2 linked regions of the Homo sapiens genome follow. The protein of the gene in region 1 interacts with the protein of each later gene in a biochemical or structural test. Each region holds a gene or a part of one and is shown on either strand. Other genes may lie near its edges. The genes, in order: ADAP1 and PRKCZ.

Evidence for each region.
Region 2: the proteins of ADAP1 (region 1) and PRKCZ form a complex in vitro, tested with the Homo sapiens proteins (one study listed by BioGRID).

The regions. Positions count from the first base shown.
Region 1 is NC_000007.14:899,934-902,878, forward strand, and holds part of ADAP1 (arf-GAP with dual PH domain-containing protein 1), read right to left. Parts: intron 684-2,945; coding exon 600-683; intron 232-599; coding exon 169-231; intron 1-168. UniProt on the Homo sapiens protein: GTPase-activating protein for the ADP ribosylation factor family. Binds phosphatidylinositol 3,4,5-trisphosphate (PtdInsP3) and inositol 1,3,4,5-tetrakisphosphate (InsP4). Regulates the incorporation of CD63 and CD9 into multivesicular bodies.
Region 2 is NC_000001.11:2,053,107-2,056,911, forward strand, and holds part of PRKCZ (protein kinase C zeta type), read left to right. Parts: intron 1-2,334; coding exon 2,335-2,456; intron 2,457-3,377; coding exon 3,378-3,467; intron 3,468-3,805. UniProt on the Homo sapiens protein: Calcium- and diacylglycerol-independent serine/threonine-protein kinase that functions in phosphatidylinositol 3-kinase (PI3K) pathway and mitogen-activated protein (MAP) kinase cascade, and is involved in NF-kappa-B activation, mitogenic signaling, cell proliferation, cell polarity, inflammatory response and maintenance of long-term potentiation (LTP).

The sequences.
Region 1 (2,945 bases):
TGGCCCGAGTCCTCGGGGACCCCGGCCAGGCACAGACAAGGGGCTGTGAGGACCCACCAGACACCAGTTTAAAACACAGGCGGCAGCTGGCAAGGCTGCTGCACTTCAGTCCGAGACCCACCATGGCGTACCCCAGGCCACCCCAGGCCGCACGTGCGGCACACCCACCTTGGGCCCCGTCTTCTCCATGTAGCCTTCCTTCAGGTAGTTCCTGGAGAGCTTTGGCACCAGCTAGGGCAGGACACACCAGGCAGGGGACCTCAGAAGTGCAGCTCAGGCCGAGCCCCTCCCTGGCTGTGCCCCTCTGTGCTCCCCTCACCCCGGGCCACCAGGTCAGGGCCCAGGCCTGGCTTAGCCTCCGCAGGATCCACATTTCTGCCTCTGCTTGCCACCCCTTCCCTCCCCGCTTTCCCCTTTGGCTGAGCTGAAGTTCTAGAGTGAGGCAGGAGGGCTGCAGGCACGTCAGGGTGAGCCCTTGGCCAGTCCCAGGCCCACCCTAGGGCTCAACATCATCCCAGACTCAGGGCACGAGGGCTCCGTCCACCCCCCACCCCACCACCCCTGTCTGCCCTGGAGCTGACCGCAGGGCCGCCACTCACATCTGCGTCGCCGGCCCCTGGGAATGCCACCTGCAGGTAGTGGAAGCGAGCAGCTCGGAGTGCATTGAACCAGTCCACAATCTCCTAGGGGCAAAGGTGGGCACAGGCTTGGGCTGAGGAGGCTGCAGCGCTGGGGTCCCCACAGAGGGGCTGGGGTCCCCACAGAGGGGCCGCTTCCCCCAGAGCCCAGCCCCTTCCTCCTCCCCGGCACCTCAGCTCCCAGCAGTCCTGCCGCAGGCCTGGCCCCTGTGCCCACGCTGAGGCCGGGGCTGCTACACAGGGGCTGCCCCTCTGCGGGAGGGCAGGTGCAGCCTCCCCCGGCGAAGTCCTGAGAAGGGCCGAAGGGCCGAAGGGCCGGGCCGGGCCGGGCTGGACAGGGTCGGGGGCTGCCATCCAAGCTCACTCTGTGGCCCTGGTGCTGCTGGGGCCTGGGCCAACTTGCCTTCCTTTCAGATGGTGCTATTTTTATGAAGATCCTTATTTTGTAGCTCAAGCAAGTCTTGGGGTGGTGGGAGAAGGGAGGCTCATCTGTTTATAAACGCCCTTGGAGCTGTGGCCCCTACCGAGAGTGGGCAGAGAGCAAAACTGCTCTCCAGGGAGCCGCCCTGGTCCTCTGGAGAGCGTGGGGTGGGCCAGCACCCTGGAACAGAGGGCCCATAGCCCAGGCCTGGCACCCAGCCCCACGTCGGGTGCCCTCTGGGTCTAGACTTCAGCCTGGCTGTCCCCTGCCCCTAGACCCAGCGCCCCTCCTGGGGTCTGCCCAGACCCTTGGCCCCATGACATTATAACCTGCGCCCTGGGCCTCCTGTTCAGCCTACAGCCTGGAGCTGGTGACCTCTGGAAAGGTGCCCATCTTTACTCTTGGCTGCACCCTCTCCTGCCCAGGAAGAGCCAGGGAGCCCCATCCCTCCTCAGGCTTCTCCCCAGCCCCTTTGGCCTTGACTTTTGTCCCACAGGCAAAGCCCCCAGCACTGGACCAATCCAGTCACGGCTTCTCCAGCTGGCACCCGGCCCAGCACCAGCTGGAGGATGGTGTAGCCCCAGGCTCCTCCCATAGCAGTGGGATTGCCCTGTCCTCTTCCAGTGGCCCCACCCAGCAAAGCCCCACCCACCCCGACTGCCCCTCATCGGCCTCCAGCCCTGCTTTCTCCTGTGGCCCTTCCTCCTAGGCCACGCCCACAAGCCACACCCACGCCACCCAACCAGCCCGAGGCCCCGCCTCCCCTCCTTCCCCCGCCCACCCTTTCCTCCGGCCCGCCCCGTCCCATTTGGCCCCGCCCTCCCTCCTCCTAGAGGAAGCTGAACCCGTCCACACCACACTGCCCCAAAGGCCTTGGGAATTCACAGCTCCAGGTCCCCCGGAAATGCAGGGGGCTCTAAGCAGAACTGGTTGGAAAATCGCCCCTTTTCCCCCAGCAGGAGATGGAGCCGACTCTGGGGCTCCGGGCAGACGGGGCATGCCTGGTGCACTCCACGCTGGAGCTCTGTGACCCTGCAGGCTGCAGCGGAAACTCCCTCAGCTCCCACAGCTGGGGGCCAAGCGTCTGCCCTGGGCGGGGGGAATTATCTTTGGAGGATCAGGAGTTGGACACCAGCCTGACCAACATGGTGAAACCCGGTCTCTACTAAAAATACAAAAATTGCGGCTGGGCGCAGTGGCTCACACCTGTAATCCCAGCACTTTGGGAGGCTGAGGCAGGTGGATCACCTGAGGTCGGGAGCTCGAGACCAGCCTGACCAACATGAAGAAACCCCGTCTCTACTAAAAATACAAAATTAGCTGGGTGTGGTGGCGCATGCCTGTAATCCCAGCTACTCGGGAGGCTGAGGCAGGAGAATGACTTGAACCAGGGAGGCAAAGGTTGCAGTGAGCCGAGATTGCACCACTGCACTCCAGCCTGGGTGACAAGGGCGAAACTCTGCCTCAAAAAAAAAAAAAGAAAGAAAAGAAAGAAAGAAAAATAAATACTCCAAGAACCAAAGGCTCTCTGAAAAACTAAATGCATGACAGCAGAAACAAAACCCTCAACACAGTGTTGGAGACAAAGTTGAAGAAATTTCCCAGAAAGTAGAAGAAAAATGAACCAGTTTAAGAGCACCAATAACAGGAGTTTCAGAAAATGAGAACAGGGAAAGTGGAGGGAGGAAATCATTAGATAAGAAAGCAATCCCTGACCTCATGGAAACCAGTAACTGGACTGGAAGGGCCACCCTGGGCCTGTACCCAGCACATGAAAAGACGAGGGACCCTTGCCAACACACGCACAGCATTGGAGAATTTCAAAACCGCGGGACAAACGTACTAGGATGGAGGAATCCGTGGTGCAAAGCCTTCAGAATTAGCAG
Region 2 (3,805 bases), on another chromosome or scaffold:
AGCTCAGACTTTTTTTTTTTTTTGAGTCTCGCTGTGTTGCCCAGGCTGCAGTGGTGTGGTCTCGGCCCACTGTATCCTTCACCTCCGAGGTTCAAGCAATTCTCCTGCTTCAGCCTCCCTAGTATCTAGGACTACAGACGCCCGCCACCACGCCCGGTTAACTTTTGTAGTTTTAGTAGAGATGAGGTTTCACTTTGTTGGCCAGGCTGGTCTCGAACTTCTGACCTCGTGATCCGCCCGCCTTGGCCTCCCAAAGCGCTGGGATGAAAGGCGTGAGTCACCGCGCCTGGCCCAGCTCAGACAACGTTTGTGTTCAGGGAGCTTCTGTGTGCAAAGCCCAGGGCTTGGTGCTGAGGCCAACAGAGACGCAGGAGTCTCTCCCGGGCGGCCCAGCTGGCTGCTGGGTGCTGAGTCCTGGACGCCCCTGCTGAAGGGCACAGGGCAGCTGTTTGATTCAGGATTGGGATAGGGTTGGAGGTGGTGGCCTGACACTTCCCAAGCCCTGGGGTTTTACTGGAGCCACCCACCTGGCCTCTAGATTGGCCGGAAACTGGCTTCCACTGGAGGCAGGACTGTAGGGGTAGGGGCGTGGGGCAGGAAGAGGTCAAAGGTGAAGTGATGGCCGACTCCCACTCTGGAGTTCCTGGTGGTCAGACTTTTGGACTCCAGGTCAGGCAGCAGGCGTGGATGTCAGCTTGGGGCGACCCCAGGGTGATGGGTGTGTGACCCCCCTCCATTCCTTACTTTCCTAATCTGCCATGATGCTGTGGGCTGTGGCGAAGACCAGCCAGGTTGGTTCCTGTGGGGTGCTTGGGCACTGGGGGCAGGTGCTGGGTGGCCAGTTCCAGCAGGAAGGGGTGGGTAGCTGGGGCGTCTGTCCCCCAGGCCCAGGTGGCCCAGGGTGACTGGGTGAGGCCTGTGGGGCAGGTGGGCCCTGGGCTGCTGTGTCAGGGCCGCGGCTGTGGACCGATCCTGTGTTCTGTTTGCACTGGAGTTCTTGTCTGGGATGAGAACTTTGTTTCTTGAAACTTGTCTGATGAATTCAGATAACCTTGATGGGGAGCCAGCAGTGTCAGCGAAGAGCAGAGCCTGTATCTCTGGTTGGGACATCTCACACCCCTTCAGGCTTCTTTTTATAGGCCCTGTGCTCTTGCCCCGCGCTCTTGTGGGTGTCAGAAAGCCGTAGATTTTTCTGAAAATTCAGTGTGTTCACAAGGGTGTGATTCCCGCTCTGAGTTTCAGGAAACACCAGCTGGGCCCTGTGGTGGTCCCTCCCCTCCACGCAGGGTGAGACCAGCTCTTGCTCAGTGCAGGAGGTGAGGGGGGACCTCGGGTCCCTATCAGCAGGGAAGTGCCAGCCTTCAAAGGGTGCCTGGGAGTCCGTGAGCTTCCCCAGCCCCTGGAGTTCAGGTCCTGTCTGGGGCTGAAAAGATAAAACACACTGACTCTGTGTGACTCGGTTTTAAAAAAAAAAAAATCTGCCGGGGCTTCTGCCGTGGCTGCAGCAACGGACCCAGTGCCCACTCCGGGGTCTAAAGAGTGGCCTTTCATTATGGAATTATTTAATCCCCGCCACTTCACCGCTGGCACCGTCGAGGTCTGGGGGCAGGTCTGACTGGTTTCCTTTACCTTAGTGAAGCCGGCGGCCTGCACCGACCCGGCTCGCGCCCATCCCGGGGTCACCCACATTTGGGTGAACTTGAACGAGTGCCCGACCAGGTAACGTTGCCGGACCTCCCACAAGAGGGCACTTTCTTTTCTCCCATTTTGTCCTCATTCTTTCCAGCCAGGTAGGTCGCGCTTTTTTCTCTGTGCAAGGAAGTTGATGGTGGTCATTTTTTTTTTTTTTTTTTTAATACGGAGTCTCTCTCTGTCGCCCAGGCTGGACTGCAGTGGCGCGATCTCGGCTCGCTGCAAGCTCCGCCTCCCGGGTTCACGCCATTCTCTTGCCTCAGCCTCCCGAGTAGCTGGGACTACAGGCGCCCGCCACCGCGCCTGGCTAATTTTTTGTATTTTTAGTAGAGACGGGGTTTCACCGTGTTAGCCAGGATGGTCTCGATCTCCTGACCTCGTGATCCACCCGCCTCGGCCTCCCAAAGTGCTGGGATGACAGGTGTCAGGCACTGTGCTTGGCAATGGTGGCCATTTTTTAAACTATGGTTATGGTTAATGGTTCTATTTTGTGTGTGGGAGGGGGGAGGGGGTGGGGCTGTCATATTGTCTTTGGGGAAAGTTTCATTTATCTAATCAATGATTTGGTTAGTTGGTAATCATTTTTTAATTTGATTCAAATATGCCCCACGGTAACAGATGCCCATGTCCCCTCTGCCCCAGGGACATCTTCATCACCAGCGTGGACGCCGCCACGACCTTCGAGGAGCTCTGTGAGGAAGTGAGAGACATGTGTCGTCTGCACCAGCAGCACCCGCTCACCCTCAAGTGGGTGGACAGCGAAGGTAGCCCTTGTCCCATGTTGGCCAGAATCCTCAGCCTCAGGGGACTTCGCCAGGGCAGCCTCTGTGTGCGGAGTGTGCTCAGCCAATTCTGTGGGGAGACTTAAAGCTGTGGAATTAAACTTGTTGGCGCCAACTTTTCCCCAGTGGGGATGGTGGGAAAGAGGTTGGCCACAGATGCTTATCAAGGACCTGGGCCCAGATGCCCCTAGGAAGGGCTCTGGTCTTGAACTGCCTGCAGGGGGTCTCCCTGCCCCACCCTGGGCAGGTCCTCACCTCTTCCTCTGACCTCCTTTCTCATGTCCTGGCCTTTTTCGGTAGGTGCTTCTGAAAGGATGGGCTCTTCATATTCTAGGGACCACGGGGAGGGCACAAGCAGCCAGGGCCTGCCGTGTCCACCTCCTGTCTCTTAGACACATCCTGAAAAACAAGGGGATTGGGAGACGTCCAGAGAGACCCCTTTCTCCCAGGGACTGGCGGGCAGCTCTTGGCCAAGGACACGGCCGTGCGGGTGGAGCCTGATAGCGCCCCCGTTGGGTTGGGTACAGCCCTGCAGGGCCTGGGTTCTGTACACCTCCATGTCCCTTTCCAGCCATAGAGGGCAAGGAGCTCTCCCTCCGCCCAGGACTGACCTCCGGAGAGTGTCCTCAGCCCCGCTCACTGCTTAGCCCTCCAAGTGGTGCCCAGGGCTGCAGGTGTACTGACTTCCCTTCCGGGGTGGCTCTGACGCTGCACCGGGGGCCAGGTGACTCCCTAGTGTGGACGGCCGTCCTTGGACCTCCCGACCCTGCCAGGAGGTGGCCAGTCTGAGCATCGGGACTTTGCCCCCCACCAGACCCTTGTCTGGTGTGCTGAGCGGGCTCGTCACAGCCCCCTTTGCCTCGGGCCTTCGGCGACGTCAGCACCGTCTCCTGCCCCACCCAGGTGACCCTTGCACGGTGTCCTCCCAGATGGAGCTGGAAGAGGCTTTCCGCCTGGCCCGTCAGTGCAGGGATGAAGGCCTCATCATTCATGGTTAGTGGCGGGGTCTGTGGTGGGCAGCTCTGGGGGGCTGTTCCTGGCTGTGGGTGTCTGCCGACTAGCTGGGGGATTTAAAATGGTTTAAAATCCTATGATGCCAGAGAATTTAGGGATGTCTAATATAATGCCATTTGGGTTTTTTTCTTTGACTTTTTTTTTTTTTTTTTGAGACGGAGTCTTGCTCTGTTGCCCAGGCTGGAGTGCAGTGGCACAATCTCAGCTCACTGCAAGCTCCGCCTCCTGGGTTCATGCCATTCTCCTGCCTCAGCCTCCCGAGTAGCTGGGACTACAGGCGCCCGCCACCACGCCCGGCTAATTTTTTGTATTTTTTG